3 separate regions of the Homo sapiens genome follow, and all the other regions are linked to region 2. Evidence: fine-mapped expression QTL. A gene starts in region 2. Each other region holds a variant in brackets. All regions are shown on one strand. Distances are between the middles of the regions.

What was found. PIP is the estimated chance that this variant, and not a neighbour inherited with it, causes the effect. A credible set is the group of variants that fine-mapping cannot tell apart.
Region 1: its variant is the best candidate, but not a certain one, in a credible set for the expression of SLC35A5 in T cells (TOPMed, PIP 0.89).
Region 3: its variant is the best candidate, but not a certain one, in a credible set for the expression of SLC35A5 in whole blood (INTERVAL, PIP 0.74).

Annotation. Positions count from the first base shown.
Region 1 is chr3:112,598,304-112,606,586 of GRCh38, reverse strand. CCDC80 (coiled-coil domain containing 80) reads left to right here. Exons shown (of 8, transcript NM_199511.3): 8 at 824-8,283. The coding sequence ends at 1,170. Among named protein-coding and RNA genes, the nearest start is that of CCDC80, 39 kb to the left of the region's middle. RefSeq lists an enhancer at 2,530-2,699. The variant G/A (reference allele first, on the strand shown) is at 4,011.
Region 2 is chr3:112,557,556-112,565,834 of GRCh38, reverse strand. It overlaps SLC35A5 (solute carrier family 35 member A5), which reads right to left and starts at 3,790. Exons shown (of 7, transcript NM_017945.5): 1 at 3,562-3,790; 2 at 2,302-2,450. The coding sequence starts at 2,431. It overlaps ATG3 (autophagy related 3), which reads left to right and starts at 3,873. Exons shown (of 12, transcript NM_022488.5): 1 at 3,873-4,378; 2 at 7,418-7,459. The coding sequence starts at 4,307. RefSeq lists enhancers at 252-1,061, 1,062-1,871, 3,492-4,301, 4,302-5,111.
Region 3 is chr3:112,536,816-112,544,815 of GRCh38, reverse strand. ATG3 (autophagy related 3) reads left to right here. Exons shown (of 12, transcript NM_022488.5): 6 at 710-759; 7 at 2,932-3,013; 8 at 6,636-6,670; 9 at 6,926-7,081. Among named protein-coding and RNA genes, the nearest start is that of ATG3, 21 kb to the left of the region's middle. RefSeq lists enhancers at 4,544-4,633, 4,714-4,763. The variant G/A (reference allele first, on the strand shown) is at 4,166.

The DNA of each region.
Region 1 (8,283 bases), 41 kb before region 2:
AGGCATGGTGGCATGCGCCTGTAGTCCCAGCTACCTGGGAGGCTGAGGTAGGACAATCGCTTGAACCTCGGAGGTGGAGATTGCGGTGAGCCGAGATCACACCACTGCACTCCAGCCTGGGTGACAGAGCAAGACTCCATCTCAAAAACAAAACAAAACAAAACAAAACAAAACAAAACAAAACAAAAAAAGACTCTTGACTGAAGTTTTCAGAAAGCAAATCCAGTCCTTTCTTCCAAGACCAAGCTCTTTAAATAATGTGTGTAAAATACTTGGCAGAATGCCGGACACAGCAGACTTGAAAGTGTCAGCTCCTTTTCTCCTTCCCCTCTATTCTTTTCACTATTCACAATAGTTTAAATATTCCTCTAGATCTTAACAGAATTGATATTTTCACTTTTAACAATGAAATAAGCTTTTTATCATTAAGATGTGTCAAAAGGTAAGCTGTAGTTACAGAGAAGTAACTAAGCTAATTGGAAATAAACTTAGAAAGATAAACTATATAATCCTTGTTAGTGACAAATTTTAAAGAAATTAGTCTTGCCAGGATTAAATTAAGGAATTGGTTTTATACTTTGTAACATTCCTACAAAAGACACATCGAGTGCCCCAAAGTTTGACCCTAATCGTGTTGCAGAAAGCAGGGACATTTAATTTCTAGTAGAAAAAGCCCCAGCAAACTTCTTTAATTAGATTTTGAACTAAAGAGAAGAGGCTCATGGGTCCTCCCTATTCTCACAGTAATTTCCTCACACTTTAATGTTTTCATGGGCTCTGACTGTTTAATCTACTAACAATAACTATTCCAATGTTATTCTAGGGAGCTCTGTTGTTGAGCGAGAAGACGTACCAGCCCATTTGGTGAAAGACATTCGTAACTATTTTCAAGTGAGCCCGGAGTACTTCTCCATGCTTCTAGTCGGAAAAGACGGAAATGTCAAATCCTGGTATCCTTCCCCAATGTGGTCCATGGTGATTGTGTACGATTTAATTGATTCGATGCAACTTCGGAGACAGGAAATGGCGATTCAGCAGTCACTGGGGATGCGCTGCCCAGAAGATGAGTATGCAGGCTATGGTTACCATAGTTACCACCAAGGATACCAGGATGGTTACCAGGATGACTACCGTCATCATGAGAGTTATCACCATGGATACCCTTACTGAGCAGAAATATGTAACCTTAGACTCAGCCAGTTTCCTCTGCAGCTGCTAAAACTACATGTGGCCAGCTCCATTCTTCCACACTGCGTACTACATTTCCTGCCTTTTTCTTTCAGTGTTTTTCTAAGACTAAATAAATAGCAAACTTTCACCTATTCATGAGTTATTATTGAAACCTCAAATCATAAAGACATTTAAAAGAATTGTTTTTCTAACTGGAGGGGCTCTAGTGCTAAATAATAGTACTGAAAATTGATATTATTTTCCTTTTCTTATATGAAGGACCTTATTTGGCATATAAAATTTTATAAAATATGTATTTAAAGCTTTTTCTTATTTTTTGTATTAATTGGTAAGTGAAAACTCTGTTAAAGATCACACCACAATGTTTTCAAGAAACATCTGAAAAGATAAAACAAAGAACAAATAACTTATAATACTTACTTAAATTGACACTTTTTGAAATGCCAGTCTGAAAATAATTAAGATATCTCTGCTTTGTATGAGTTTCTTTTATGAAACTTGATACCACGGGAGTCCAGTAATATTGGCCACAAAAGCCAGAGAAAGTACCAAGCCCAGCTTTGTTATCATAGCCACTTCCTGCCCTGCTTCTGTTATTTTTAGTGTTTTTTCAGATATAAATCGGGGTCCAGGAAATCCTCACCAGAATCTGGCACTGCAGCCAAAGGCGATACTTCCAGAGTTCTAGTAGGCTGCTATGGAATTTCTGGCATGAAAATTCTTGACCCCTCACACTTTACCCCCTGTACAGCACAGGCATACCATGGAGATATTACAGGATCAGTTCCAGACCACCATAATAAAGTGGATATCGCAATAAAGTGAGTCACACAAAATTTTTGGTTTCTCAGTGCATATAAAAGTTATGTTTACACTCTTTAGTAGTCTATTAAGTGTATAATAGCTTTATGTCCAAAAAATGTACATGTTTTATTTTAAAAATACTTTATTGCTAAAAATTGCTAATGATCATAATCTTTTTGCATTGATGTTGATGGCTGCTGAATGATCAGGGTGGTGGTTACTGAAGGTTGGGGGTGATGGTGGCAATTTCTTAAAATAAGACAGCAATGAAGTTTGCCACTTCGATTGACTTTTTCTTCATGAAAGATTTCTCTGCAGCATGTGATGCTGTATGATAGCATTTTACCAGTAGTACAACTTCTTTTGAAATTGGAGCCAATCCTCTCAAACCCTGTTGCTGCTTTATTAATGAAATTTATGTAATGTTGTAAATCCTTTGTTGTCATTTCAATAATGTACATAGCAACTTACGCGAGTAGATTCCATCTCAAGAAATCACTTTCTTCGTTCATTCATAAGAAGCAAGTCTTCATCTATTAAACTTTTGTAATGAGATTGCAGCAATTCAGTCACATCTTCAGGCTCCACTTCTAATTCCAGTTCTCTTGCTATTTCCACTATGTCTATAGCAGAGCTTCCTCCAATGAAGTCTTGGGCCTCTTAAAATCATCCATGAGGGATGGAATCAGTTTCCGAACTCATTGATCTTCCTATTTTGACCTTCTCCCATGAATCACGATGTTCTTAACAGCATCTAGAATGGTGAATCCTTTCCAGGTTTTTAATTTGCTTTGCCCAGATCCATTAGCGGGATCACAATCTGTGACAGTTATAGTCTTACGAAAAGTGCAAATGACTCCTTGATTCCTGTGCTGCACAATAGGTATTGTGTTAGCAGGCACGAAAATATTAATCTCCTTGTATATCTCTATCCAAGTTCTTGGGTGACTGGGTATATTGTCAGTGAACAGCTATATATATATATATTATAGTGGTCTGGAACTGATCATTTATATATATATTTTATATACATATATAAAATATATAATATATATTATATATATATATATTTTTTTCGAGATGGAGTCTCGCTCTGTCACCCAGGCTGGAGTGCAGTGGTGCGATCTTGGCTCACTGCAACCTCTGCCTCCGGGGTTCAAGTGATTCTCCTGCCTCAGACCCCTGAGTAGCTGGATTTACAGGCGCCCACCACTACACCCAGCTTATTTTTGTATTTTTAGTAGAGATGGGGTTTCACCATGTTAGTCAGGGTGGTCTCGAACTACTGACTTTGGCCTCGGCCTCCCAAAGTGCTGGGATTACAGGCATGAGCCACTGCGCCCGGCCCGAACAGCAATATTTTTAAAAGATTCTTTTTTTTTCTGAGCAGTAAGACTCAAAAAGTGAGCTTAAAATGTCCAGTAAACCATGCTGTCCATAGACATGCTGTCATTCAGGCTTTGTTGCTCCATTTATAGAGCACAGGCAGATTAGATTTAGCATAATTCTGAAAAGTCGTAGGATTTGGGGAAATGGTAAATGAGCATTGATTTCAACTTAAAATCACCAGCTGCGTTAACTTCTAACAAGGAGTAAGCCTGTTGGTTGAAGCTTTGAAGTGAGGCATTGACTACTCCTCTCTAGATACGTAAGTCTGAGATGGCATCTTCTTCCAATATAAGGCTGTTTCATCTCTTTTGAAAATCTATTGTTTAGTGTAGCCACTTTCATTAATTATCTTAACTAGATCTTCTGGATAACTTACTGCAGCTTCTACATCAACATTTGCTGCTTTACTTTGCACTTTTATGGATGCACAAGGCTTCTTTTCTTCAAACTCATGAACCAGACTCTGCTACCTTCAAACTTTTTTTCTGAAGCTTCCTCACCTCCCTTTAGCTTTCATAGAATTGAAGAGAGTTAGGGCCTTGCTCTGAACTAGGCTTTGGCTTAAGGGAATTTTGTGGCTGGCTTGATCTTCTATTCAGATGACTCAAAGTTTCTCCATATCAGCA[G/A]TAAGGCTGTTTTACTTTTTTATCATTCATGCATTCACAAAGTAGCACTTTTAATTTCCTTCAAGAACTTTTCCTTTGCATTTACAACTTGGTTGTTTGGCATAAGAGGCTTAGCTTTCAGCCTGTCTCAGCTTTTGACACACCTTCCTCACTAAGCTTATTCATTTCTAGCTTTTGATTTAAAGTGAAAGATTGCAACTTCCTCTCACTTGAAATACCTGGAGGCTATTTTAGGGTTATTAATTGATCTACTTTCAATATTGTGTCTCAGGGACTAAGGAGGCCTGAGAAGAAGGAGAAAGATTGGAGAAAGGTTGGTTGTTGGAGCAATCAGAACATACACACATTTATTAAGTTTACTGTGTTATATAAGTGTGGTTCATGGTGCCCCCAGTAATTATAATAGCAACATCAAAGATCGTTGACTACAGATTTTAATAACAGAGATAATAATGAAACAGTGTGAAATATGGCAAGAATTACCAAAATGTGACACAGAGACATAAAGTGAGTACATACTATTGCAAAAATGATGTCAACAGACTTCCTTGATGCAGGGTTGCCACAAACCTTCAATTTGTAAAAAATGCAGTATCTGAGAAGTATAATAAAATAAGATGTGCCTGTACTTACTTGCTAATGGACCTATTACCATACTGGCATCTTATAAAAAAAATTACAAGGAAGGAGATTATATCCAGGGATTCTTTTTGTTTTCAAGGCAAAGGTTACCAAGTTACAATGGACCAAAGTAGCTGGAATGCAAAGGAGTATAATCCTTGTCTTTGAAAAAAGAGCATTTGTTTCAATCATATGGCATATCAAAGTAAACTTTCTCCCTTCCTCCCTCCTTTCGTTGCTGCTGCTTCTTTTTTTTCTCTTTTTTTTTTTCTTTTTTTGGAGAGGGTCTCACTCTGTCACCCAGGCTGCAGTGCAGTAGTGCAATCTTGGCTCACTGCAAACTCAGCTTCCCTCAAACAATCCTCCCACCTCAGCATCCCAAGTTAGCTGGGACCACAGCCATGCTCCACCATGCCCAGCCATCCTTGCTTCTTTACTACATTTCTTTTTTCAACAAATATTTATCAAGTAATATTGTCAAGTAATATTTATGAGCTTCCCCTCAGATAGGCATTTAGCATCATGATGGCACCATCCTCTAACAATAATGGGAAGGCTATTTTCCACTGTTATTAATCATTAATTCTCCAAATCATTTTAGTATTATTATTAATTCTAATAAGTACAGAGATTAATAAATGCATTCAAACCACATGTGAATATTTGCTATAGGTTTATCTGTGCCTACTGTATGTTCAGATTTTTCTTTATATCTGAACTTTGTTATAAATAAATGACAGTAAAAATGGAATTTATAGTTCAATGAACTTGACAAATCACTTATTCTGCCATTCATTTTCCATAAAGACCATTCATTCTTCCTTGTTTTACAGGTAACTGAGCTCCAGAAAGCTCAAGTGACTTTAGAACTCAGTTCTTAGTGTGTGAATTATGCTCCCATCTCATCCCTCTTCCTTGATGGAGCACTTTCCTCCTCATTTTTTCTTGGATAGTCTGTACAAGCTGCCTGAGGTGTGCAGGAAAGTGAGCCACGTCGAAGTGTACTGCTTTTAAATTTTTGCCAGGATGAAGCATAGCCCAAAGTTGCCAATAAAAATGGATTTCTTTACCTTTCTGAAATTGTGTGATGACAATTTCTAAGTAAAGGACCCAAATCATGTCAACTTCAGGAAATATAATAATGAGGGAGCCAGGAGCAGTGAGGGGCTCACACCTGTAATCCCAGCACTTTGGGAGGCCAAGGTGAGCGGGTCGCTTGAGCCCAGGACTTCGAGACCAGCCTGGGCAACACGGCAAAACCCTGTCTCTACAAAAAAATACAAAAAATTAGCTGGGTAAGGTGGTGTGTGTCTGTGGTCCCAGCTATTCAGGAGGCTGAAGTGAGAGAATCGCTTGAGCCTAGGAGGTCGAGGCTTCAGTGTGCCGTGATCGTGCCACAGCACTCCATCATCATCATCCTGGGTGACAAAGTGAGACCCTGTCTCCCCACCAAAAAAAAGAGGGAGTTTCATCTCCCAAGAAAATGAATTAGATAGGAATAATAGAAAATTTACTCTCAGAATAATAGGGTTCTAGCTCCTGCAACCAAAAAAAGATAGTTCTTTTTTACAACCTGAGATTACTTTTTCAAGCATTTCTCCAGTTCCACTGGCATTGAAATAATAGTTAGCAATGCATCTGAGCTTTTCTTCCTCTAATGAGCAGGCAGAGAAGTCATAGATCATCATTTGGAGGACTATAAAATAAGACATAGCTTAGCAAAAGGACCAAAATACATTCAGAGGAGGATGCTATTGGTGAATGTCCTCAAAGCCTATAATCTGGAAAAATACAAGGCATATCTCTGAAACTGTGAGGATTAGCAAACTAGCTAACCTGAATCTCTGTCTTCTGGTAGTATAAACTAGGTAGTTTCAAATCTGAGTAGTTTCTCCATAAAAGCATTTCTTCCCAAACGTTTCTTACCAAACTCCCAAATAAATGAGAAAAATAAAATACAGTTTTATAATTTTTGAGAAAGATTATGGGATTATGGTATTTAAAAAGAAAAGCATTCTGTAGAGTTGGGGAAATCTGGAAGACTCTTGAGGACATAGCTTTGCCGAAATTGCTGGTTGTCACAAGACTCTTCAAAAACTACTTTTCATCAGACATCTCCCAGGGCTCTGAGGTGAATATTAATTCAGCAGAAAGATCCTTTTCTGCTACATAGGCAGGAGGTCCAGACACAGGGGAGTGGGTGCAACCCAGCTGGTCCCATTTTCTGTAATATAATTAACAATGAAGCTCATACTTTCTCAACTTCTAGAAGCCTGGAGGATGGAAGCAGCCCGAGAGTAGGGTGAATGATGGCCTCAGTGGGCCCTTCTTAATGTGTCTCAGTACTGAATGTGTGGAGATTGTAGAAAAATAGAAGGCCCTTGGAAAAAACCTCTGTTCGTTTCTCTGTTCGTTTCGCTCCCTGATCTCCCTGCCGGATTGCTTTTCTTTCCTTTCTCTTCCTTGGCTGTCCTTTACCTCATGGTGTGGGGTGTGCAGATAGCAGGTTGTGGCTTGGTGAGTGCTCTTCACTTCAGGTCAAGGTGAGGCACAGTTAACATGCTAACTACTTTCCTCAGTTCTCTCTGAGTTGTGTAAAGCTCCCGATGCCAGACTTCCTCTTAATTTTGCACATTATTAAAGTCCAAAGAGTTAAGATTTGGTGATGAGGGGCAAAGGGCCAGCTGTCACAGAAATCAATGAAATGATACACAGAAATGGGTATCATGAAAAGGCCACTGGACTTGGGAAAACTGGGTGCCTGTCCTTGCCCTGCCATGTACTTACCTGTGTGACTGGAGGTGAGATGTTTTACCTATGGGCCTCAGTTTCTCATTACAAAATGACAGAGAAGACTAGATACCTAAGTTCCTAAGTTTGTGACATTTGTGAATTTTTCTTGGCCCTCTGTGAGTAGAGTGCTAAATTTAGAGGCTTCCTGTGGTTGAACTGATGTCCAATTCTCAGGGAACCCAGACTTCTCAGTTCAGAACCCAGTTCCAGATTTTTGTGGGAATAGGGAAAGGTATTAAATAACTCCATTGAATTCTTTCCTGCATAATGCCCTGCTGTGGCTGAGACTCAATGAGGTCATCACCTCCAACACACAGAACCCCTCATCATCTCCTTACAGCCAGACTGGAGCTTCCAAGGACATCAGGTTGGCAAGGATTGTGAGTACCCTAAACATCTAAAGAGGCCCTCTAATAAGGGACATATTTGTTCTTCAACAGTTTCCTAACTTGAGACCACAAATGCGTAATCTCTCTAATATCCTAAAGCTTGGACAAACTGGGCAGCCCCTGAGCAGACCGCACAGAGCTTAAATGTCAGTGCTTTCCTTCCAGAAAGAAAAAGAATGGTCCTACACCTCCCAATCCATGGGCTGATACATATGCCAAGGGAGCCGGATGAAGAAGTGGGTGATTTTAAATAGCTAAGACTGCCCATGGGCAAACGTTCTTTGGCTTTTCTCCTCTGCAATAAGTATACCTTCCTCTCTCCTGGTCCTTTTCTCCTTTCCCAGGCCCCTCTATCAATAATAATTCTGGCTCTCAGATGACTACAGTTGATTAGGTGGAACTGATAGGATAAAGGTGACACCCTTCCCAAGGCTATCTATAATGCAAAAAGATATCCAAGAAAAAGAGAG
Region 2 (8,279 bases):
CTCTCCAGCCAACCACTCCTTCTCTTTCTTCTGAGTCCTTAAACTTTTTTTTTTCTTTTTTCTTGAGACAGTTTTGCTCTGTTGCCCAGGCTGGAGTGCAGTGGCATGATCTCGGCTCACTGCAATCTCTGCCTCCCGGGTTCATTCTCCTGCTTCAGTCTCCCTCATAGCTGGGATTACAGGCACACGCCAACAAACCCAGCTAATTTTTTGTATTTCTAGTAGAGATGGGTTTCACCATGTTGGCCAGCCTGGTCTCAAATTCCTGACCTCAAGTGATCCGCCGGCCTTGGCCTCCTAAAGTGCTGGGATTACAGCATGAGCCACTGTGCCTGGCTACGAGTCCTTAAACTTTTTGCTTGGTAATTTCAAACTACATATTCTCACAACATATCCTGCTTTTTTATGCCTCTGTTCCCTTTTACAGGCTGTTGCCTCTGTTTTGAATCCCCTTGTTCACCTTGACTTCTAGTGGATCAACTGACTTCTAATCAGCGAAGTGTTCTCTGATCCATTTGAACTCCACATCATCCCCTACCAAACAGAATATATAACTTTATCCTCTAGACAATCTCTGCATCTTCAGGATATATCAATTATTGCAGTTATTATAATGGATTTTCATGATGTGTTTACATTCATGTCTCTCCTAATAAACTAAGTCTTGAGGACAAGGTCTATATCTTATGCACTTTGAACCTGCTGCTAATACTTAGCCTAGTGCCTGGCAGGTAAATGTTAACTGCAGTAGAGACTTGGGTACACATCTGACTCTCCAAGTAGTAGACCATTAAAGGTCATATCATGATTGTATGTGTCCTCAATTGTGGGGAAAAGAGAGATCAGATTGTTACTGTGTCTGTGTAGAAAGAAGTAGACATAGGAGACTCCATTTTGTTCTGCAATCTGTAACCTTACCCCCAACCCTGTGCTCCCTGAAACAGGTGCTGTGTCAACTCAGGGTTAAATGGATTAAGGGCTGTGCAAGATGTGCTTTGTTAAACAAATGCTTGAAGGCAGCATGCTCGTTAAGAGTCATCACCACTCCCTAATCTCAAGTACGCAGGGACACAAAACACTGTGGAAAGCCGCAGCGACCTCTGCCTAGGAAAGCCAGGTATTGTCCAAGGTTTCTCCCCATGTGATAGTCTGAAATATGGCCTCGTGGGAAGGGAAAGACCTGACCGTCCCCCAGCCCGACACCTGTAAAGGGTCTGTGCTGAGGAGGATTAGTAAAAGAGGAAGGAACGCCTCTTTGCAGTTGAGACAAGAGGAAGGCATCTGTCTCCTGCTCGTCCCTGGGCAATGGAATGTCTCGGAGTAAAACCCGATTGTATATTCCATCTACTGAGATAGGGGAAAACCGCCTTAGGGCTGGAGGTGGGACATGCGGGCAACAATACTGCTCTTTAAGGCATTGAAATGTTTATGTGTATACATATCTAAAGCAAAGCACTTAATTCTTTACCTTGTTTATGATGCAGAGACCTTTGTTCACGTGTTTACCTGTTGACCCTCTCTCCACTACTATCCTATGATCCTGCCACATCCCACTCTCCGAGAAACACCCAATAATGATCAATAAATACTAATGGAACTCAGAGGCTGGCAGAGATCCTCCGTGTGCTGAGCGCCGGTCCCCTGGGCCCCCTTTTTTCTTTCTCTATACTTTGTCTATGTCCCTTTCTTTTCCAAGTCTCTCGTTCCACCTAACGAGAAACACCCACAGATGTGGAGGGGCAACCCACCCCTTCACTCAATAACTAGTAAGAAGTACTCAATACAGTTTTGTGGAATTAAAGTGTTTGCTTAAATCCCTACATAAAAAAAGATTTCTTAAATACATACTTATCAAAGCTTATAATTTATACTGTTGATACAATATGACCGCACAATATAATGCTGACACCTTACCATTGATACAATAATTACAATAGTAAGTACCTCACAAATGCCAAGTGACCAAACAAATATATCCTTCTACTTCAAAATAAGGCGCAATTACACATTTTGCTATAGGTCCAGAAACACCTGTTGATTGAATTAACAGTCAAATGTTACGACTGGTTCTTCACCAAAGGGTTTGATTTTTGTATCTGATTGACTCACATTTCATCCATTATCAAACATTTTTTCTTGTTGAGGAATGCAAGGTTAAATAATCAAATTTAAATATGCTTTATCACTCACATGAAGCAAAAGGCATTATTATTTCCATGTTATATATAACAGAACCAAAGGCAAGAGAGAGATGTGTGATTAGATGGAAGTGCTCCATGCATATACCAAGTCTTAACTTACCTTCATTGGCAGAATACTTCACTAGTAAGATGCGACTTGAGCTTAAAGCAATGAATATGGCACCTAGCAGGAATGTATACATTGTTGACAAGGAGCATATTACAGGATGACTACAGCACTGTTTTTCCATTCCACTGTTTTTTAATTACCTTAAAGAGAAAAACACTTTCATGAACGACCTTGTTGGCAGACCCTAAACGCAAATACCATTGATCGTGAGGACAAAAAAGGAATTTTTAAAAAATTTTGGCTATGACTATATCAGCACCAAGAAAGTTGAGGCATAAAGAAACTATGACAAAAGGAAAGTGAAAATCTGATAAGAGGGAGTACTCTGGAGACAGAAAACGTAGAACCAGATTAGACCTGCTGACAAAGGTAGCAGGTGAGCAAATGACACTTTGCAACAGCAGAAAAGAATTCTTCAAAGCAATTTTGAATTTTATTTTTAAATTTTATTTATTTATGTATTTTGAGACGGAGTCTCGCTCTGTCACCCAGGCTGGAGTGCAACGGCGCGGTCTTGGCTCACTGCAACCCCTACCTACCGGACTCAAGCGATTCTCCTGCGTCAGCCTCCAGAATAGCTGGGACTACAAGCGCCCGCCACCACGCCCGGCTAATTTTTGTATTTTTAGTAGAGACGGGGTTTCACTATGTTGGCCAGGCTGGTCTCGAACTCCTGACTGTGATCCGCCCGCCTCTGCCTCCCAAAGTGCTGGGATTACAGGCGTGAGCCACCGCGCCCGGCCTCGCTTTTACTCTTATTAGTAAATAATTTTGCTGTAAGATAAGGCTTTCAGAATTGTATTTTCCTCCTCTTTTCCCTCGGAGGAAAAAGCTTATTAGGACAGACTTCATTACAATAACGACCAAAATGGAAATATCTGAAACACTGCTGTAAAGTTTTACTGAACTAGTTAGTGTTTGAAATGGAGGAGATCGTAGAAATCAATGAATCTAAGGCCCTCTTTTGATAGGCTGAGGACACTAAACCCCAGGTTGGGTAAGTAACTTGCCCAAAGCCTCCCAGCGTACTGTAGGAATAGCGCATAGAGCCTGCGGGGAGTGGGGAGAAATGCCAATACTGACAGCCCCATTGGGCGCACGCCTACAGGACGCCTCCCCGACAGGAGGGGGCCAGATTTCCCTTCACAGTCAGGGACTACCCTTCTAGTCACACATGCGCAGTAGGGCTCTTCACTGGCGCACCCTCCCCTCAGACGCAGGCGCAATTCCTTGCCCGCGGGGCGCGGTTACCTCCCTCAGAAGAGCTTCTAGTGGAAGAACGCACATCCTAGAGCTGAGACAGTAACTGTCTAGCCCCGTAGTAGCAGCAGTAGCCTTTAGGGTCCATACGTGGAGAAGCTACAGTAGGTATAGGCGAAAAAGCCCCTCCCTCTAAGCCGCCTATTGCAGAACAAAAACCACGATTACGTCCGGATTGGGAAAAAGCGGACCCGACACCCATTGCGCAGGCACGTTCAGTGTTACGCTTCCGGAAGGAGGGGAGAAGCGGCTTATCCCGCCCCAGCCCGGCCCCTTTCTCACGTCACGTGCCGGGAGAGTCTAGTGTCACGTGAGGCCCCGGTGGCGGCGCAGCTACGGCAAGAGAGTGAGAAGGAAGGGAAGCCGGAAGGGGCGCGAGTGAAGCAAAGCGAGGACAGACAGCTCGCAGAGGGCGAGGGGTGCGTGTGCGTCCGCTTCTCACCTCAGGTCTCCCTTCGGCCCCGCTGCCCTCCCTCGCGGCTGGGTGACAGCTGGGTCCGGTCCGTCGCGGGCTGCCTGGGGTGCGAGGATCGCGCACCCCGTCTTCGCGCGCTGTGCCTGCCGCCCCGCCCCCTCGTCCCGCCCGTCCCGTCGCGTCGCGTCCCGTCCCCTCGGGTGCTGCCAGCCGGGTGCTGATGCGAGTCGGTGGCAGCGAGGACATTTTCTGACTCCCTGGCCCCTGACACGGCTGCACTTTCCATCCCGTCGCGGGGCCGGCCGCTACTCCGGCCCCAGGATGCAGAATGTGATTAATACTGTGAAGGGAAAGGCACTGGAAGTGGCTGAGTACCTGACCCCGGTCCTCAAGGTAAGCCAGGCCAGGGTTGCCGGGAGCTGTCAGGCACATGCTCGACTTTTCAGGGACCAGGCGCCGCAGGAGTCCCCGCTTTCTCCGGCGGGGCAAGGTGTAGGAAGGCAGTAGGGCTCGAGACACAGGGAAGTGTGCAGCCCCCACCCGTAGTCTTAACCGGCTGTTCGTTAGGGCTTTCTGACTCCTCAGGGGTAAACTTGGAGCGACGCTCTGCGTGTTCCTGCCTTCTCCCGTCATAACTCTGCGCGGTCGGGTACGTCGGGTTGGAAGGGTGTTCGGAGGCTGAGTAGATTGAAGAACGTTAAATCCAAACACTGGAAGTCTTTTAGCCTTTTTAAGCAAGGATTTTGCTTCTCTTTAAAAAATGAATTTAGTGTTTGACACACAGAGGTCAAAAGAGACCTGAGGTGAGGTCACTTTTCCTTTAAGTTTCATGAAAGTCCGCTGTAGTGGGGAAGTTGTGACTGCGATCCCAACTCGTTTAGATTTCAGAGGAAGGAGGTGAAATTGGCAACATTATCTCATTCAGTAACCTTGAACCCATCTAACGAGCAAAACCTTTTTCCCAAGCTTTTCAGATAGCCGTAGCTGGTTATTAGTGATAACAAGGCACGGTTTGACCTTCCTGGCTGTATAATTTTTAAAAATATATTGGCAACAGTACAGCATTTTTAAAGTAAAAAATTGTGACACATTAGCTGTTACAGTAGTGACTGATTTTTTTTTTAAAGGTAAATTTCTACAACTGCCTTCAAGCTTTTCTTTTATAACTCTTTTGGAGTGTTTTGTTGTAACTTCATTTTTGCTTTCTGAAAAGTGAGCAAGAATAGTAAATTAATGGGAAGTTCTTGCTTAGTTTTTGTTTTTTTTTTCTAGTTGTTTTTAAGCTTTCAGTTAGAATGTACCAATCTCAGTGTGGGGGTGAAATACCTTAATATGCTAAGAATAGTGGAGAGTTTTGCTTTGCTCCCTTTCCATGACAAAGGGAAGTACTAGGTCTATACTTTTTAAAATACGTTTTTGTAAAGCTCCTTTTAAAAGAATAACTTATTGGCCAAGTAAGAAATAAACCAGCGATTATAAATGAGAATTTCAACTGTTGCTTTGCTTACATTTGTTTACTGTGAAAGTCATTTTAAGATTATTCAGTCAAACTAAGATTGGAAAATAATTTTCACATTTGAATCAAATGCTTTTACATAATTATGTTAACTTTTCAGAATATCATATCTACCTAGGTATACAGTATTTTAATAATACACCATTGTACAACTTTTTAGTTTCCGGGAGAGAGGAGCAAGAGACTGCCCAAATGAAATATAAAATGTATGATGTAGAATTATGTTTTCAGGAGTCCATCATACTTGCTCACCAAACTGAAAAGGAACTGTTGGCATGTCAGTATGTATGGTATATGTCTTTAGTAAAAAGGAAAGAATGAATGACCGTCTCCTTGATACTCCTGTGCAAACTGTTGTTTACAGAGAGAATCCTTACAGTTTCCTGCTTAGGGAGGGCAAGGAGAAAGAACAAAATCCTCAGGAAATAAGTAATAGCCTTCTCCTAGCAAGTAAAAATTAAGAAAAATCATGTTTTGTTTGGAGTATGTACATGCAGTAAACACTGAAGTTCTTACAATCATCTCTAAGGTTCTGCTTAATTGGTAGAGGCCCCAATCTCATCTGCTCCATCCCCTGACTGCTGTTGCTTAAGCTAACCTGATCTCTTTATTATTCTGTTAAGCACACTCTTGGTTTGGGGTTTTGCATGTGCTCTTCCCTCTATCTGAAACGCGCTTCGCACTTAACAGCCTTATGGCATGTTCCTTTCCTTAAGGTTTTTAAGTCATTATTCAGTGAAGTCTTTGTTCTCTTACCATTCTATTTTAAATGGCCATCTCTCCCCAGCCACCCCACAGATTCCTCTCAGCTTCATTTTTCTTTATGGTATGTTATTCATTACCATTTGGCTTTTCTTCCTCAACTGGAGTTGAAACTCCTTATGAGGGCAAGAATAAATTTGTATTTATGTTATTCACCCCCAAATATCCCCACTGCCTCAAATAGTGTCTGGCACATAGTAAACATTTGTTGAATGAATAATGTTTATAAATGAGTGTTTTCATTTTTGTAGACTCTACCAGAAAATCTTACATATAACTTAAAGTTTAGAAAAATTTAGAGAATAGTGTGTCAGTATCTTGGTGGAGATGAGAATTAGAGGAAAATGCTAAATAATTTCTAGATTTGGTTTCTAACATTATTCAGTTTAAATAAGACTGGCTGAATTGTAAGATGTCTAAACATCTTTAAGACATTTTTGCTGTGCTGTAAAATAAAGGTATTTGTTCATTTCACAGAATCACTGTAAGGCTTTATTTTTATTTAAATCTTAGAATGTTTGTACATAGAGCTTGGCCGGGCGCAGTGGCTCACGCCTGTAATCCCAGCACATTGGGAGGCCGAGGCGGGTGGATCACCTGAGGTCAGGAGTTCGAGACCAGCCTGACAAACATGGAGAAACCCTGTCTCTACTAAAAATGCAAAAATTAGCCGGGCATGGTGGCACATGCCTGTAATCCCAGCTACAGGCAGGAGGCTGAGGCAGGAGAATCGCTTGAACCCGGGAGGTGGAGGTTGCCGTGAGCCAAGATGGCGCCACTGCACTCCAGCCTGGGCAACAGGAGTGAAACTCCATCTTAAAAAAAAAAAAAAAGAATGTTTCTACATAGAGCTTTACTCTATTATAGCACTGATCTGATAGTATTATAATTATTTTCATGTCTGTTTCCTACATTAGACTTGTATATTCCTGTGGTCATTACCAGTGAGTGAAACAGATAGATAGATATAGATAGATACCAATGAGGTAGGTAGATAGGTAGATTAGATAGATTATAGATTAGATAGATAGACTAATTTTTTTTTGTATGTGCTCTATTGCCTAGAAGGGCACCAGGCAAATAATTGCCCCCAAAATATATTTAATTGATAGTGAAACATGATATAATATTGTTTTTCTTTCTGCTTTTTTTAGGAATCAAAGTTTAAGGAAACAGGTGTAATTACCCCAGAAGAGGTGAGTGCTGAAGATATACTGAAGTCTTTTTATTTTACAATAATACTAAACTAGGTGGCTTTTCTGCTTCATAAGAAAACATCTTGAACTTTAATTTTGATTTGAGTAAAATTAGGTTTTATGACTGTGATTTATGGGAATTTCTACTTCCCATAGAAGAAAAGATGTAACTTCCCCGTCAGTTTGCCACTTCTCATATTTCTCTGTAGTTCCTCTTTATTTAGAAATGAGGGTGAAAGAAGGGATCAAAATGAGTCCTATGTCACTTATCCTTGACTTGTATTGGTGTTATATTGAGCTGTGCAGTAAGCTCTGTAATGTCTGTGGTGTCTTGGTTCTGTTTACATCAAATGTGAGTTTTCATGCTTTTCATTGGAAAACTTTGCTTACTACTTAGATATTGTTTTCTCTTAAGAGTTCTATTTCGTTGTCGGTGGAGAAGTAAATACTGGGCTAAAAACCTTTTCAGGCTCCAATTTTATGAATAATTATGGTTTTATCAGACTTAGGTTGTTCTTAATAAGAGACAATTTATTTAAGCTTGAATTTTTTTTTTTCTGCCAATGAAAACACCACTTTTTGGCAATAGAACTTTATTCACTGTTTTGAAACAAACGTTTTAAGCCTTATTTTATGATAAGGCTGCTGCTGTTAAGGTCCAAGGTGTGGAGCTAGAGAATTAACTGATCTTTCAATTTTCAGTTGTGATGGAATTTGTCTAGTTCCAAATCTTTGTGGTTTTTTTAATTTTTTTTTCTTGAGACGGAGTCTCCCTCTGTCACCAGGCTGGAGCACAGTGGCGCGATCTTGGCTCACTGCA
Region 3 (8,000 bases), 21 kb after region 2:
AGAAATACTTCTGGTCCCAAGCACTTCAGATAAGGGATAATCAGCCTATATTAAGATAACTAATAGCTTTTTGAGAAAATTTTGATGCAAGTTTAATTAAAATGTACATACGAGTCCTGTAGTTTTTTTAAACTCTTGTCTTTCCTTTTTTTTTTTTCCCTGAGACGGAGTTTCGCTCTTGTCGCCCAGGCTGGAGTGCAATGGTGCGATTTCGGCTCATTGCAACCTCCACCTTCCGGGTCCAAGCGATTCTCCTGTCTCAGCCTCCCAAGTAGCGGGGACTACAGGCACACGCCACCACGCTGAGCTAACTTTTGTATTTTTAGTAGAAACGGTTTCACCATGTTGGCTAGGCTGGTCTTGAACTTCCGACCTCAGATGATCCACCCGCCCCAGCTTCCCAAAGCATTGGGATTACAGGCGTGATCCACCGCACCTGGCCAAACTGTTCTGTTTCTCAGAAAGTGTTGTGATAGAGATTCAAACAAGGAAAGTAATTCATGGTAAAATATTAATGAGTTTTTCAAAATTTGAGGAGGTGCCATTGTGACTATTCTCATTAGAGTTCATTTGTAAAGATACTACTATTATTTGCCTCCTTATTTCAGAGAAATTGTGAGAATTTTCAGCATTTTTATATTGCTTTAATAAGTAAATAGGGTGTTTACAGTTTAATTTTAGTTATTCTTTTCTGCCGAATTTTACATAGGTATTACAGGAATAACGGAAGCCGTTAAAGAGATCACACTGGAAAATAAGGTACTGGTTAATTAGTTATATTTTTAAATTTAATGAGTAGTTATTTGCCTATCTATCTATCTATACACACACATATATAATCACCATATCTTTCTTATAAAAACCCTGGTTTTTTATTATCAAGCTCTTTTAAATTCCAGCTGTTTTCTTCCCCATTCATTTTTCTGTCTCAACACACCAAAACACTACTGCTGCCTAATGCATCTCTTATTTTCCTTAATTTGTAGTATGGTTAAGTAAAACAGCTTTTAGATTGTAACTTGTACAAACTACTAATTTTCACTGACTGGAGCAACTTCTAGGCTAGTTTAAAAGAGATGACTTTTTTGTTTTAAAATGTATTTAGTACCAAATGTCATATAAGTGGAGAATGTTGGGGTGGAATTAACTACTTGCTTACTAGTAGATGCTAATGATATATTAACATTTAAATTTTATAGCTTAAATAGTGCCATAAGCAATTTAATCATTCTCTCTGTATTTTCTTCAATTACTGGTAATTTGGGGTTTATTTGTTTTTGAAAATTTGAAAGCAAACTTTAGCTTGCATCATTCAAATTCATGACATTTTGAATGAATAGAAGCTTAATCTGTTAAGTTTTATTGCATGATTTATGGGGGTAAAACATAATTGGGTAGAGTTTTTTTGCTTGGAAATTTTGAGTTATTTTAGGCTGTTGTAGGTATTAGATTAGCTTTTCATTTCTCAGAGAGATCAACCGCAGTTGTCTTCATGTTTTTATATACCTGTAGTTGTTTGAAATGATATGAAAAAATAATATAAAATGCTTTCACCCTTGTCTTAATTATTTTTTTAACCATCAAATCACTTAGAGGATAGACTATTTGAATGGAATAATTGTGTTCCTAGTCTTATGACACTTTTGCTACAACAGTTACTAAAGATATTCTTTGTGTGTTTTTGTCATTTGGATCTTTCTAGATTTGTTACTGGGGCTTAACAGAAAGTGATAGAAACGAAGACAAGTTTTTTTTTTGTTTGTTTTGTTTTTTTATTTACAGTTTTATGCTTTAAGATTTAGTTCTTTGGCCTGAGAATTCATCATTTTGAAATTAGACTTTTTGGAGTGTTTGAATGACTTACGGAGAAATAACACAAATTGCTTTGCTGTTTTAGAAGATCTTGTTTACTCTGACCATTACTATATATGCTTCAGACTTTGGGAATGATAAATGGCACAGTAGTGTAGATAGTAGTGTTTTTCTTGGACGGGCTTATGGTAATTCCTTTAGTATTTTTTGTAACTTAGAATACTTGCCATCCAAGCAGAAGTATTAATCTTGGTTGTCAATTTCTATTCTACTTTATCAAGTATAAATATCACCAATATGATGAAACTTTTTCTTAATGATTAATTTGTTAAATATTAGCTCATATAATAATTACTCCGACACTGATGGTTTTGTGGTTTTGTGGTTTCAATTTTGGGTGTAAGAATGATTTAAGTTTTAAACATATGACTTAAGTTTCTAGTGTTAAATTAAACCACCCCTAAGTAAAATGTAACCTAGGTAAAACTAAATATTCAGTTTATCCACTTATTATGTTGACTTCAGATTTTCAGAATATTAATTTTGTGAAAACGATACCCAGATGTTAAACCTGTCCATCAATATTCTTTCACTTTAGAGCTAATATAGTTAAGAAATTGAACTGATATCTTGTGCATTTTAATAACTGTAAAGTCTGATAACTTGCCTAATTCAGCTAAGATATTGTTAACAAATTAGAATGTAATAGTGTTTGATTTATATTTTAGCTTATATTTGATTTACAGATATGTGCACTTTTTCCCCTTATAAGTGCACAAGTTAATATAATTTTGAACTGATTTTCTAATACTAATGAATTGATTAACCAAAAATACTGTTTTATTGGAAGTGCAACTGGCAATTATTTTTAAATAGCTTAGATGACTCTTACTGCTCCCATAATAACCTTTGTTATTTTTCAGTCACAGCACTTAGCACGTTACTTTTAATGACTGATATATGAATTCATTATCTTCATTGGAGTTTAAGGTTTTTGTGGACAAGAACTGCCTTGTCATTCTTATTTTCACAGTGGTTACCACTGTGCTAGCACATGGGTGTTCAGTGTTCAAATTAATGTATATACTTAAGTGATTTTAAATATAATTAATTTCAAAGGACAATATAAGGCTTCAAGATTGCTCAGCACTATGTGAAGAGGAAGAAGATGAAGATGAAGGAGAAGCTGCAGATATGGAAGGTATTCCTGTTCTAGATTTGCTTCAGTTCCACTAGAATATTGATTTAGAATATTTGTAATTTATGTGGATTAAGAATTCTTCATTGAGTTGTAAGTTTAGCATTTAGCAGCCTAGTGAGTGTTTTATATATGTTTAGTTCATAAATTTCATTAGTGTAAAACTTATCTTGATCTTGGACTCTTCTATTTTACTCCAAACATAGTCTTGGACAATATCATTTTTATTGGAATAACTATTAGTCATAAATATTTAATACTGGATACGGCTGCAAGATATTAATTCCTAACTGAATTATTTCAGAGCAGAACAAAGTTTGCTTATTATGCATTTTGTATTTTCTTTTCCCTCTTTGATAGCATCTTTCTATTAAAACCTGAAGATAGTGAGTTTCAATGGGGCCTTTTTTTTTTCTTTTTTTGAGACGGAGTCTCACTCTCGCCAGGCTGGAGTGCAGTGGTGCGATCTCTGCTCACTGCAACCGCCGTCTCCCAGGTTCAGGTGATTCTCTTGCCTCTGCCTCCTGAGTAACTGGGACTACAGGTGCATGCCACCACACCCAGCTAATTTTGGTATTTTTAGTAGAGACGGGATTTCACCATGTTGGCCAGGATGGTCTCGATCTCTTAACCTCATGATCGCCCACCTCGGCCTCCCCAAAGTGCTGGGATTACAGGTGTGAGCCACTGTGCTTGGCTAATGGGGCCTTTTGAACTACACAGAATCCCATCAGTTTCCCAAGATTCTGAAAAGTCCTCCTCCTAGAGTTGCCAGTTGAGAATCACTGCATTAGTGAATCATTCTTAAAAGAGAGAGAAACCCACTAGAACAGAGCAGTATGGGTCTGTGAGCACATGGTTATTCAAAGCTTTGTATTTCATGAGCATGATAATCTTTTTCAATACATTTGAAACCTCAGATATTTAAAAGTAGATGAAAAAATTGCTGTCACCAGGGTGACCTCTTTGTTAAATCCAGTTTATCTTTATTACACTTACCTTTTCTGCATTGATTCTGTTAACCATATCTTCCTCTTTTTTTTTTCTCTCTTGGTTTCTATAACACTGGGTTTTCTTACTCTTTCCTGGACTCTTTCTTCTAGTCATCTTCTATGATTCTTTTTCTTTCCCTCAGCTATTAAATGTTACTGTTCC[G/A]TGGGTTTCTTTTTTTTTTCCCCTTGCTTACTCTCTGTACTCCCAGATTTTTTCTTCTATAATGGCATTCTGTAGTTTGGCATGAAAATTTGTGCAACAAGAAAGATAGAGTATAAATTACATCCAGTACTTTGTGAGAGTTGAAATATGAATATATTTATATATGTAAATAGGGTGCATGTGTAAGAAGTTGGAAAAAGGAAAGGAATATGAAAAAAAGGCAGGCATTGAAGGCTGTAAGGCAGCTGAATGCCAAAAATACATAGACTTTAGAGTGAGATAGATTGTGTTTTGTAGCATGCAGAAGTAGAAGATGGTGCCAAGTAGAGTTGAAACACCATAATGGCAAGTGATGCTTGCTAGATCAAAAGTACCTTTCTGTTTGTTTTCAAAATTACTTTCAATTCCCCATGAAACCTAGCTATGTCTGTTCCTAAATTTTAGTGAGATTCTTGTCCTTATTTTCATGGTAAACTGCTGTTCCTTAAGGAAATCTGAATGAATTACTTGTAACCAAAATTGATCACAGCAGCCTCACATACCATCTGTATGCTAGGGACTTCCATATCTAGAGGTAGCCTAGATATTCTCAACTTCAGATGTATTTCAGTTTCATTTCCCCCTGGATGTCTCATAGTTGTCAGAAACTGACATCACTTTCTTGGACAAATATTGTTTCTGAATTTCATCTGTCTCTGAATGACATAGTTGACCAAGTTGGGGTGGTGGGGTAGCATAGAACCCTTCGAGTAAAGCACTGTTTTCAAAGTACAAGCTGTGGGATTGCCTTAAATATCTGATAGTCATTTAGTATGTTTATTATATTCCCCCTAGATAGAGTTAAAGAATTGCTATATATGTAATTTTGCTCAACAGTTGTGTTAATGGTATCTAATATAAAGGTAATTTTCATTTATTGAACAAATATTTATTGGGCAGTACAGTATTTATCAGGTATTGTCCTTGGTGTTGGAGATAAAGCAGTAGACATGATTTCATGGAGTTTATATTCTAATCAGTGGAGACAAAAAATAGATAAGCAAAATATATACAGTATTAGTTATAAGTGTTAAGGAAAAAATAAAGGAAGAAAGGGGTTAGAGAATCTTGGGGTGGGAATGAGTATTGCAATTTTTAAATAAATTGGTCAAGAAAAACCTAATTGAAAGTACACGCCATTTAAATAAAGCCTGGAAGGAAGTGAATGAAACTAGGTATTTGAGGGAAGAGTGCAAAGGTACTGAGGTGGGAACACGTTTGGCTTATGTAAAATATTGTAAGGTATGCTTATGTCCAGATAGGAGAGAAGGGAGAGTAGTAAAGGGTGGAGTCAGAGAGGTAACCAGGGACCAGATTCTATAAGGTCTTGACATTACTCAGAGTGAGACAAGCCATTGGAGGGTTTTGTTTGTTTGTTTGTTTTTCAAGTAGAGGAGTGACATTTCAACAGAATCACTGTGCAGTGGTGAGAATAGACTGAAGGGAGAAAGGGACAACAGGAGGCTGTTTGATAATCTAGGCAAGAAATGATGGTGGCTTGGGCTAGGGTCGTAACATTGGTAGGGATGAGAAACAGTAGAATGCTGGAATACTTTGAGGGTTGAGCCAAAGAGATTTGCTGCTGGATTGGATGTCATATGTGACAAGTGGAATAGTCAAGGGTGACTCCAAGGTTTTTGACCTGAGCTTCTAGAAAGATACCATTAACTGAGATGTGGAAAAATCAAAAGTGATTAGCTTTGGAGAGGGAGTCAGGAACTCAGTTTCAGACATGTGATATTTGCAGTGTTCATTAGTTATTTAGTAGAGACGTAAAATAAATAATCCAAGTCCGCAGGCAGGGAATAAATTTGAAAGTCATCAGTATTTGAAGTCATTGAGTCTGGATGAAATCGTTACAGAAATAAGTGTGGTTAGAGGAGAGACAAGGTCCAGAAACTGAGCCCTTGGTTACTGCAGCGTTTGATTTTATGGTTCTTTTTAAAGTAGAGGTGATGAAGAGGAACCAGCATAGAAGATACTGAAACAGCACTCAGTGATGAGGGAGGAAAGCCAGGAAAATATTTTAAAAGCCAAGGAAAGAAAGTATGTTCCAAGGAGAAGGGACTAAATCATGCCACATGTTCCTGATAGGTCAATTAAGATGAAAACTGGGAATTTACCACTGGATTCAGCAAAGAAGAGGTCACCGATGACTACGCAGTTACAGAAGTAGGCTTGTGTACACTGTGGAGCCACTGAGGACTCTACAGTATTATTATGTCAAGCCTTAAACATGCTGGCTTTCTCTGGGCTTTCGCCTTTGGAAGTATAGAATTAGCTCACTTATATCTATCTATTCAATATCTTCACTTAAAAACAAAGGCAAAACCCCAGTTTTTGAATGATACTATGAAGTAATACTTAAATTGGTTTAGGGAATTTTCTTGAACTTGAACTTGATTAATCTTTTGTTGTTTTTTTATAACAGAATATGAAGAGAGTGGATTGTTGGAAACAGATGAGGTTTGTAAATTGAGTTTTCTTTAGTTAATTTTTAATGGATGAACTTGGGGATGCATGTTCTTACTAATAATATATTGATCTTTCAAAGACATTCTAATTTGTTCATATTGATTATAGCATATAAAACGTAGCTTTGAGTTCCAAGTTCATTTACTCTTAAGAAAACAAAATATAGAATGGAAAAAATAAGTTTTCTAGAATGTCACATTCATACCGATTTAATGGTTGTAAATTTTTCTCTTTTATTATTTTCAGGCTACCCTAGATACAAGGAAAATAGTAGAAGCTTGTAAAGCCAAAACTGATGCTGGCGGTGAAGATGCTATTTTGCAAACCAGAACTTATGACCTTTACATCACTTATGATAAATATTACCAGACTCCACGATTATGGTTGTTTGGCTATGATGAGGTAAAAATGAAAAGCATTATATTTTAATATCAATATTTTAAATTGTTGGGTTTTAATTTCTTCTTCATTAGGTCCATGAGTATTTATTGCAGTGTTTCACATTTTGGAAATCATCTGTTTTACAGTTTTATGATTAATGTTGAACTTGATTCTTTCTTATTTTGAATGAACTATGAATTATTCAGTGTAACAATAATGCTAAGACATAAACAGAAATAATCTATTACATATTCCTTTTTTGAAGGCTTATGCCTTCAAAATGTGAGGGAAATTTAACTTGGTTTATTTTATTAAATTTTGTTTGGGATTACATCAGTTGGATATATAGGCATTTACAGAATGACCATGTCACATGTGAAGAGAGTGGATTGTTGTATGTATGTATTTTTCCCCTTAAGACAGAAAACTCATCTACTTAATTGAATTAAAGGATAATTGACAGGAAATCAACTTGTTTAACCTGTCATTCTTATGGCTATACATGGGAAACAAGAAAATAAAGTCAGTCTAAAAGATGAGCCACAAAGTTATAAAATGTTTTGATAGCCACAAACTTGTCTTTTTGTGAGATTTTTTTTCTGCATTGGGGGTAGCTGTCACAGAGCTTGGCTGTGACTCCTTCCTGTCCCTCCCTTGATATTAATAAATTGTAAAATTTCCCAGAAATCATTCTAAACAGTCTAGAATTCTAAATTGCAAGTGATGTGAGATGGAGAACTAAATATATTATAAACCTTGAGATTTAGGCTGAAAGTTTCTAAATAGTAATTTCTTTTTTTTTTTTTTTTTTTTTTTTTTTTTTTTTTTTTTTTTTGAGATGGAGTCTCGCTCTGTCGCCCAGGCTGGAGTGCAGTGGCGCAATCTCAGCTCATTGCAAGCTCTGCCTCCCGGGTTTACGCCATTCTCCTGCCTCAGCCTC